2 separate regions of the Homo sapiens genome follow, and region 2 is linked to region 1. The links come from fine-mapping of genetic effects on gene expression. Tissue or cell type: T cells. Region 1 holds a variant in brackets; the other region holds the start of a gene. All regions are shown on one strand. Distances are from middle to middle.

Region 1 (5,229 bases):
AGTACAGCATTCAAAATAAGCCTTTCTATTTATAATCCAGATCACCAAAGAGGTTTCTAGATAATTTAAAAGTCCACTTTTAGGCTTGATTATTTTAAAATGCTTATATGTCAGATCTTCAGTTTGACCAGTTATTTTGTAGATGCTTCATGGAATTTTGAAACCAAAATTCTCTCCTTCCCTTCCTTTAGTGATGAGGAACTGAGGGACATTGTTCTCCTTACCTGGAACCCTGCTTTCTCGAATATAGTGTAGTATATCTCCCCAACACATATTCCTGCTTCTTGTAGCCTGGAAGTTGGAGATGTAAGAATGGGCACCGTTTCCCTGCTGTCTTTGATTTGCATAATTTGGCAGTTCGTCCTATTTGTCCCTTCTCTATTAAACATTCAGATGCTTTCTATGCAGATTTGCATCCTTCAGTTTGGCAAAAATGGCAAAATAGAAAAAGTTACTCAGTTTTTAACAACTAATAAATTGCTATGATTTTTATAGTTATTTTTAAGTACCTAGTTTAAAAATGAAAATTATAATAAAGTCATATTTGTATTTTTGGTGGGGAGGGAAAGATATCAGAATTATGAGAATTACCCCACTTTTTGGTTCCATCTCCCAGAAACTCTGGGATTCTTGAGTTCAGATTTTTTGTTGATTTCTTTAATTCTGGATGTCTTCAACCCCCTAAATAGTTGGATCTCTTTGCTATAAACTAAACTTCCTGACTTTTATAATAAGAGTCTGTCCCCTATGCTTACAGGACCTTATTTCTTCATATCATATTTTTACATACATTATTTCCTGGCTTTCTAGTCCTTTCTATTTATAGAATTATTTATCCTATTTTTCATATCCTTATTTGACCTCCTCTTTTTCCTAAGAAATGTTATGATCTTGTCTCACCTCAAGACAGCTAATGGCAGCAGTCACTGGCAGGTTGGGTTCTGTGCGTGTTGATAGGGTAGATCCTTTAACGTGCACACTACCCCTAGGACTTGGGGGGCAGGGTTGGGGGGCGGCTGTACTGGCATTCTGATGCTTCCCTTCATGTCACATTTCCCATGATGTAATCAGTGACACTCATCTTTAGACTCCCAAGTTCACATCATTGGCTCTTAAAGAGGATCTTGACTTATTTGATTCATCTGTGCTATGTTCTTTGATGAAGACACCTTACTGTTCGCTTTGAGCAGACCTCTCAGAAGCCGAGTAGGCATGGAAGGTGGAAGGGAGAACCACCTCTAGTTTGGCCAAAGTGACCCAAGCATTTCATTTTGTTTCATTCCTACGGACCACACATCCTACGAGTTCATGTTGGTAGTCATGAGAAGACCACTAAGCAGAACATTAGGTAACACCAAAGTATGAGACTTTTAACGGGAACTCAGAATAAGGACTTTGGTATCATTAAAAAATAAAAATAAAAAATAAACTCCTTAGCTCTTGTTTATCCTGTTGCATTTAAGAAGGTAAACAGCAAGTTTAGAGTTTGTATTGGGGAGACAGATGAAAATATGTTGTTTATTCTTAATTTGAGATCTAGCCTGGTTAGATTTACTGATTTACTTTCTGAAAAGCATCTTTTTTTTTTTTTTTTTTTCCTGAGATGAAGTCTCGCTCTGTGGCCCAGGCTGGAGTGTAGTTGTGCAATCTCAGCTCACTGCAGCCTCTGCCTCCCAAGCTCAAGCAGTCCTCCCACCTCAGCGTTCTAAGTCGCTGGGACTACAAGTGCATATACCACCATGCCTGGTTAATTTTTTGTATTTTTGGTAGAAACGGGGTTTCACCATGTTGCCCAGGCTGGTCTCAAACTTCTGAGCTCAAGTGATCCACCCGCTTCAGCCTCCCAAAGTGCTAAGATTGCAGGCGTGAGCCACCGTGTTCAGCCCTGAAAAGCATAATTCTTATACTTCTAACTATAAAGCATTCTTAGATACCAGGGACTTTCACATATATTTTATTTTATCTTCCTGGTCACACTTTAAAGAGTCAGTGAGACACATGGATGAAATTAGGACAGTTTTGTAAGACATCAAACCTGGGTGTAGATTCATAAAACTAGTCTTACAGTACTTCTAGAGTTAATTGAATGATACGAGAATTCCTTTTAAATGTCAGATGTATCAGACCAAAATCTGTTGGCTTTTAAACTTGCTACTATGTATACTTACAAGCAGGGTTTTTTAAATTTCAATTTATGTATTTTTTTCTTTTCAGTGTTGTACATCAGTACACAGAAGAGACGGATGTGAAGACACCAAGAGAGCAACGCTTTTCATAGTTGGATATATTTTTTTATGAATTTTTTCTAATTTTTGCTTCTTTTGTGATACAATTTGTCCTCTTTTTATAATAGTTGGTGATTTTTCACTGACATGTGAGTAAGATAAATGTATACAATTGTGGATTTAATTGTGAAATGTTCTTTCACTTGTAAGTTTCAGTCATTTTCTTTTACCTCGTTGTCAGTGTACAGAATGCTAAAATAATTAAAAAAAGACAAAATATACCTCTTCCTACAAGATTATTTAACTTAAGTTTCGAGAAGTGTCATTTCATTTGACTTGCTTTTCTTATCCAGCTAAAATGATGCATATATTTTATATATTGTATGGACATATAATTAAAACATTTTGGAGGAATCCTCCTTTATTGCATCCTTTTCTGTTCATACAGAATCCTTG[C/G]GTGAATATGTTCTACAAAGGCATCCAGTTTCAGTCTGAAGCTACAAAAAGGGGCCACAGGATCAGAAGTTCAGCCACTGATTGAGTCACCTAAATAAAAAACAGAATTGGAAAGCCAAGAGTGCCACTTGCACATAAGGAGTGGGAATTCGAACTGAGGTGCTGGAGAAATCCTAAAGATGAACAAGATTTCAGTGAGGAGAAAGCCCTCCTGTCAGTGGTCCCCCTGCATCTCCTTATGCAATTAGACTTTTTAGGTTTCCCTGCTCCCTTTCAGGAGCATTGGCATCAACGTTATTCTCTCAGTTTATGAACACAGTAGGGGAGGGGCCATTCCTGTACATCTCTCACAGTCAGATTAAAGCAAAGCCTAGAGTTTGTAAACATAATTCAGGTTCTAATTGCCGAGCTGAGATTGGGAAAGAATTTTTCCTAACTCTGGTCTAGCAAGTGGCTGTAGGGAGGCCTTTCTCAAAAATCAGCTGTATTTGCCTTTGACATTGTCCAGGAGCAGAGCACCAGGCTTTATGTTGCTTGGCACAAGGCAGCTCCTCTGGTTATGTGACTCCTGCTGAGAGGATTTTCACAATTTATTAATGAGCTTTCCACAACCCTGCTTTATTCTCCAAACAGTTTTACGCTGTCTCTAGGAACAACAAATATATCTGGGCACTGTGGTTGAATGAATACCAGACAATTGTGTGAATGTTGTATTGGACTTCCTCTTCCCTCCCTTCCCAATCTAAATAGCATTCCTATTTCAGGAGCCGATGGTGTGATTCGAAACAACTGCTTGGTTGAAGGATGGGGGGCAGGATCGAGAAGGAGAGAGGGAAGGGGCAGTGCTGATTCTGGAGAGGTGTATGTAGTGTTTTGTCTTGGTTTATTTTAAAGATCAGAGAGTAATTGGAAACAATTATTTTTTAATTAATAACTTGGGAAAGGTGAACAGAAGCATTTCACAGGGTTTTACCGTGTGCACACTGAAAATAAAACACTTTATGCTATGCTTCAATAATTTATCACTTCTTGACAGGGGCTTGGAAAAGGTCCAGTATGTAAGTACAAATCACCAATTTGCTCTTTTATAAATGAGTTCTTTTAAGGAGAAAATGGATGGCTCTCCAAGTGGAGCATACATGTTCTCATTTGTTTTGTAGAATATGTGGGGCTGCAGGTTATTGTGTCCCTTCATTCACTTATATCAGCCACCTCTAAAAGCAATTCCATTGTAGTCTCCCACTAATCTGTAGCGTCCTGTTTTTTCTAACTTCTTCCCTGACCTCGCCTTTGATATATAAGTCTTTATTTTCCCCTTGCCATCTCTCTAGTTTAATAGCTCTACAGTGGAGTACTGTTTTCAACCATGGAACTACTTTTAATCAAGATCAACTTTGGGAAGTGCTGCCATTTTTATGGTAATAAAGGACTGTATTATGCACTTGAACCCGCTCAAGTTGTCCCCTGTGTATACCTTCACATAGTAGAACCATGAAACAAAGTGTAAATGCTTAAATTGCTTTGTTCTTAACTGTAGTCTCCTAGAGGTCAGTGAATGATTTCTAGTTGCATTGTAGCGAAGACATTTGTTCCAGGTTGAAGAATTTTTTACTTGAGAACATACATTTTCCCTGTCTGTGTGCCCCCAAACCCTGTCTGCCACACTCTTTCTCTTGGGCTGTGACAAAACAGAATGTTTAGCGAGAAACAAAATTGTGCTCGATTTTCAGACTATCTGACTTCATTTTCTGTTTTGGTCTTTGAGCTATTCCTTGGCTAATCTTCCAACAAGTCGAATTGATTCTTATTTCAAAACTGTTTATCCCAAAACAGAGCTGTTGACAAGTACAAATACAGATGGCAGACATGTGGTATGATTTTCATGTTCTCATCTCAGCATTCAGGAAGGGAATGTTATTGAAAGATGGTTTACATCTGAAGCTTTCTGCTCAAGGCAATATGGAATGCATGCTAGGAGCGCTTAATTATGCTTAATTAATAATAGTAACAAATGCTTACGGGATTTCCTTAAGGTCTAAAAGTGCAGCAGCATTGGACTTGCTGTGTAAGGCTTACCGCCCCGGAGGCTATAATAATCTGTAACAATAGAAGCAACCTCTAGGGGGTAAAATTGTCTTTGATAATCACTGACTCTTGGGTGACCTCAGTACAGCATTCCAGGCCAAAGATCCAGAATGTTCCCTTACTGGGGGCAGACACGCCTATGATTGCACTGACCTTTGTCCTCCGAGCAGATGATCCTCCAGAGTACTGGCTAGCTCTTAGATTCAGAGGTAAATCCCAGCCCATGCTGTGGCCTTGCTGTTCCCCACAGCCCAACTGCATTAACTATAATTTTTTTTTCTCCACAAAAAGAAATTGTTGGTGAAAGGAAGACAACCTTCAGTTTTTCTCCCCACCGACCTGGTTTCAGGAGGCCGTGTGCTCAGTGGAGTGTCTCTGCCTGTCTTCGCTAAGCTTGCCCCTGACCATTGTGGAGGTAGATGCCACCTAAGAGTGGCAGGGTTAGTCCTGACCTCTGGGGTCT
Region 2 (5,229 bases), 25 kb after region 1:
CACTGGATATCAAAGACTTACTGTGAAAAAAAGAATGCAAAATATCTCACTAATGATATTTTATATGCTGATTGCATGTGAAATGTTTTCAATATATTGAATTGACTAAATTTATTATTAAAACAAATGTCTTTTGTTCCTTTTCACGTTTTTTAAAAATAAGGAGAGTCCAATTTTTTTGTTTGTTTGTTTTTGAGACAGGGTCTCACTCTGTCGCCCAGGCTGGAGTGCAATGGCAAGATCTCAGCTCACTGCAACCTCCACCTCCCAGGTTCAAGCAATTTTCCTGCCTTAGCCTCCAGAGTAGCTGGAATTACAGGCACGTGCCACCATCCCTGGCTAATTTTTGTATTTTTTGGTAGAGATGGGGTTTCAACATGTTGGCCAGGCTGGTCTTGGACTCCTGACCTCAGGTGATCTGCCTGTCTTGGCCTCCCAAAGTGCTGGGATTACAGGCGTGAGCCCCTGCGTCCGGCCTAGAAAATTTTAAATTACATATGTGGCTTGCATTCTATTTCTATTGGCCAGCACTCGTATAGAGTAGCCTTGTATGTGTTCTTGGTCAGATTCCCAGGGAGAGTTTCTGTCTCAGCCCTGAGTCAGCAGGGCCCTCGCCTGTGATGAATGCCCCCCTGGTACAATCAGCTTTGTCGGGAGAGTGGCATAAGATGCGCTGCCGGCTCAGCAGAGGCTGTGGGTGTGGCAGGCAGGATAAGGCCATGTCTAAGATATGGTGTCCTCCTGATTTTCAACAAGAAATATTACATGAGCAAATGGCAGGATTATTTATTGAGCCATGCAGGTGCGCTCTCTCTACCTTTGCACTCCTCTCCTCATTCTAATTGGTAGTTGGGCCTTTTGAGAATCCGTATATCCAGGGAGTTTGTGTTTCAGGGGCAAAGCTGAGGTGTTGGAGATTACCACTCTACCTGTGGTAGGTGGATTATGCCAGGTGGCCCAGGGTAATGGGGTGAGAGTAAAAAAAAAAAGGAGAGGAGGGACACTTTTGTCTCTAAGACTGGGATAGGAGCAGAGTGGAGTGGAGAAGAGGTTAGCCACTCTCCTGCTAGGGGCAGAGATCTGTGTCAGGACCCAGTGGAGGGGGTGGGAAGAACCCAGGCCACAGCCTTGCTGAAGACCTGAGCCCCTTTTTGGCATAGAAGCCTTCCAACTAACAGTCTTCAAGTGACCACATGAGCTCTGAAAACTATCATAACAGCAGCCATGGAAGGAATGTATCCTAATTTTCTAGACCTCCCAGAATTTCTCATGACTCAGTGGGAGATTGAGATTGCCTCCAATCCTAGTGGGATAGAAGCTTAGAGAAACCAAATTGAATTTGTTTGCTTTTGTTCTGTGTGTGGGGAATACTGGTATCCTAGGCCAAGGAAGCCCAATTTCCCTTGGTGTTTATAGGATAGATAGTCTCATTTACACTTGCAACAAAAGGCTTAGCAACCTGGTCCCTAAGCCAGTGCCTTGCCTATTCAGTCACTCATAGCTTTAGTTTTTTCTGAGTGGAGACAAGGCCTAACAGTCAGAACATTGCTCTCTCTGCAGCCCCCTACTCCACATCACCCAGGACTATCAATCCTAGGATTCTCTCTTGGACGCCTTGCATTCAAACAGCCACCAAATCCTACCTCCACCTGATCTCCTGATCTCCCAAATCCATTCCTCTCTCTTTTTCTTCATTGTTAATGTTGCAAGCTTCTAGGTGATGCTGGTGTTGCACTCTAGGGACCACACATTGAGGAACACTGATCTATAGGCTCTCTGGTATTATCAGGTGTCTCAGCAGATTCTTAGATGAATGAAAATGTGAACTCCAGCTTTAGTGCAATTGATACGGGAGGTGCCTATGCCACGTGTTATTTTTTTGTACCAAACGTTGCTCTTGGGCTAACGTATCAATTCTATTTCACCAAGAGTAACTTCAGTCCACACTGACTCAAGAAGCCAAGAATGCTGAGATGCATTTCATTCAAACATTCTCCCCTTTGCAGGGAGATCAAGATGGAGGCATCCAGCTTCTGCCAAGGATGTCAGTGCCAGTCCTGTGCAAAACCAGTTCCGGTTCTTTCTAGTTCTTCACGCAGGCTTGAACAATGATGTGACTGTAAACCGTGTGTGTGTGTGTGTGTGTGTGTGTGTGTGTATGTGTGTGCTAATACGATTTAGGTTGGATTTGGACACTGAGGAACAGTTCCTGGAGATGCTGAGGATTAGTGGTAGCAGCTGTTATTCTCCCCATTAGAGGAAAAACTGAAAGGAGAAGAAAATACTTATGTTTAAGGGATGTGTTTGCAACTCTGCGGGAGGAAGCCATTCTATCAAGCCTGAAGAAAACTGTGTTCCTAGGTAAGTGGATGTTTTTATTTATTTATTTTTGTAGAGACAAGGTCTCCCTGTGATGCGCAGGCTGGTTTTGAACTTCTGGCTTCAAGTGATCTTCCTGCCTCGGCCTCCCAAAGTGCTGGGATTACGGGTGTGAGCCACCATGCTCAGCTCCAAGTGGATAGTTTTCAGGGTTCAGGTAGACAAGATGCTAGTGGGAAAGAAGACACAGTGAAACCTAAGGCAGGAGGGTGGGAGGTGGGGCTGTGGCCGTAGTCTGTGAGTCCAGGCACTCACTCCCCTTCCCTTGTAGGCAACTGTGTCTGATCTGCCTTTGGAAAGACCACTTGCCATCAGCAAGGACTTGAGGAGCATTTTCATTTCATTTCTTTCTTTTCTTTTAAGAGACAGGGTCTTGCTCTGTACCCAGGCTGGAGTGTAGTGATGTGATCATAACTCACTGCAGCCTCGACCTCCTGGATTCAAGTGATCCTCCTGCCTCAGCCTCCTGAGCAACTGGAACTATAGGTGCGCACCACCATGCCCAGCATTCAAGGGGCATTTTGTATGTGGCCCTTATGAAAGAAAATGAGAAGAACCCTGAGCCCCCTTGACTGAGAATGTGCTTTTACACAGTTCATCTTCATTATCTCCTAATGTGTCTGAGAAGCTGTAGCCATGGTTCCTTGTAGTATGGAGATGTGTGACTTTGGTGCTTCATAGAAAACAAACTTAGAAAAGAAAGGCATTGTCTGAAGGACTCTTATGTCTAAGAAATTTGAGGTATAGATCATATTCCTGTCTTCTTTTAGCTTGTGAATGTAAAAGGTGGTGTTGTGTGAAGAGACAATGGGAGTGGAGGACACTTGATTATTTGGTTTATGGATTATTTCCTTAGTCTATTGTTCTGATAGCTAGTTTTACTACATTTTCAGGATTTTATTTTCACCTTTTAAAACCAGCTGACTACAGGGGAGGGCATTTTTTTTTTTTTTTTTTTGCCTTGCATTGTTCCTTAGGTCAAAAAATTAGCCAAACTTCTAAAATGCCTGTGTGCAGGACTATAAAAAAAAAAACAGAACTTTTTTTTTTTTTTTTGAGATAGAGTCTCGCTCTTTTGCCCAGGCTGGAGTGCAATGGCATGATCTCAGCTCACTGCAACCTTGGTCTCCCAGGTTCAAGCAATTCTCCTGCCTCAGCCTCCCGAGTAGCTGGGACTATAGGCACATGCCACCACACCCAGCTAATTTTTTGTATTTTAGTAAAGACAGGGTTTCACCGTATTGCCCAGGCTGGTCTTGAACTCCTGTGCTCACGCAATCCACCTGCCTCGGCCTCCCAAAGTGCTAGGATTACAGGCGTGAGCCACCGCACCTGGCCTAAAACAGAACTGTTAAAAAATGCCTGTGATAATCCTAAATATTTATGTAGGCAGATTTTCATCTGCCTTGTTTGCTATCTCTCATTTTATTTTTGTCATCTTCTTTTACATTGCCAAATTTTAATTCTTCCTCTTGATGGGAATTAGAGGTAGTAAACAAAAATAAAATTTACTCTATAAATGCTATTTTATTCAATCATTGTATTCTATTCCTGAGCCAAAATTGTTATCAGTATGTTTAAGAAGTTATAGAATAAATTGAGTATTTCTTTCTCTGCTCATCTTCTTTACTAAAAGTAGTGAAATAGCTAAAAACAGCCAAAGAAAGGGCAAAGAGATATCAAAGCATTGCCAGCTTAACAGTCACTTCTAAATAATTGATAGTTGGTAGATGTTTTGTAGCACTTAACTTGGTAATTTTCAATTGCAACAGAGATAAGATGCTCAGCCAAGCCATCCCATGCCATGCTGCCTGACCATGGTGGTGTATTGAGTGTCTACTTCAGATAATGTATCAGAGGCCACACCGCCTTTGGGTACCAGTCAGCTTGCAAGGAGCTCACGCTAGGATACAAACATTTTCTGGTTTTATTTCTTTGACTCAATAATTAAAGCCTCTCTTTTGAACAACAACAAAAAAAGCAGTCTGGTCTTATGAGAAAATTACAAGAACAGAAGTTTTTAAAAAGGTGTTTGGAAATGAAACACTTCCTATAGCCTGGCATTTCCTTTTGATCTTGGCCTTGAACATTAGCAATCCTGGGAGGCTGCACTAAAAGCATCTCAGGTACAGAGGCAGTGTGGGGTTCAGGTTAGTCACATCCCGAGAAGACTTTATGTCGTTTTCCTAAATAACGTCTGGACTGAAGCTGCTGTTTGTCATGATACAGGAGAGGGCAGGATGAGGATGCAGGCTGCCCTCGTGGGCTGGGCTTGTACCACCCTCTGCCTGGCTTCCTGCTCATCTGCCTTTTCCCATGGTGCCAGCACGGTGGCCTGTGATGACATGCAGCCCAAGCACATCCAAGCCCAGCCTCAGCACCAGGACAGCCACCACATCACCATCCACACCCACAGGACTTCCTATGCACCAGGTGACAAGATTCCAGGTATGTACCAGAGAGGCTTAGAGAGACTCCGAGGAGCCCCAGAGCCCCCATGGACCTTCCAGTTTGTGTTTGTCCCAGTCAGAAGCTTCCTGGACTAAATTTGGCTTAATCCCTTTTTTTTGTTTTTTGTAGAGATGGAGTCTCACTGTGTTGCCCTGGCTGGTCTGAAACTCCTGGGCTTAAGTGATCCTCCCACCTCAGGCTCCCAAGAAGCTGGGACTACAGGCACATGCCACTGTGCCCTGCTAATTTTTTGTATTTTTTTTAGAGACAGGGTCTTTGTATGTTGCCCAGTCTGGTCTCGAGCTCCTGGGCTCAAGTGAACCTCCTGATTCAGCCTCCAAAAGTGCTGGGATTACAGGCACAAGCTACCATGCCCAGCCTGGCTTAATCTTAAGAAGC

The links. PIP is the estimated chance that this variant, and not a neighbour inherited with it, causes the effect.
Region 2: it holds the start of REELD1, and the variant in region 1 is fine-mapped to the expression of REELD1 in T cells (TOPMed, PIP above 0.99).

What each region holds. Positions count from the first base shown.
Region 1 is chr4:146,187,408-146,192,636 of GRCh38, forward strand. LSM6 (LSM6 homolog, U6 small nuclear RNA and mRNA degradation associated) reads left to right here. Exons shown (of 4, transcript NM_007080.3): 4 at 2,215-4,128. The coding sequence ends at 2,249. Among named protein-coding and RNA genes, the nearest start is that of LSM6, 14 kb to the left of the region's middle. The variant C/G (reference allele first, on the strand shown) is at 2,682.
Region 2 is chr4:146,212,334-146,217,562 of GRCh38, forward strand. REELD1 (reeler domain containing 1) reads left to right here and starts at 2,205. Exons shown (of 8, transcript NM_001354631.1): 1 at 2,205-2,361; 2 at 2,743-2,865; 3 at 4,609-4,827. The coding sequence starts at 4,620.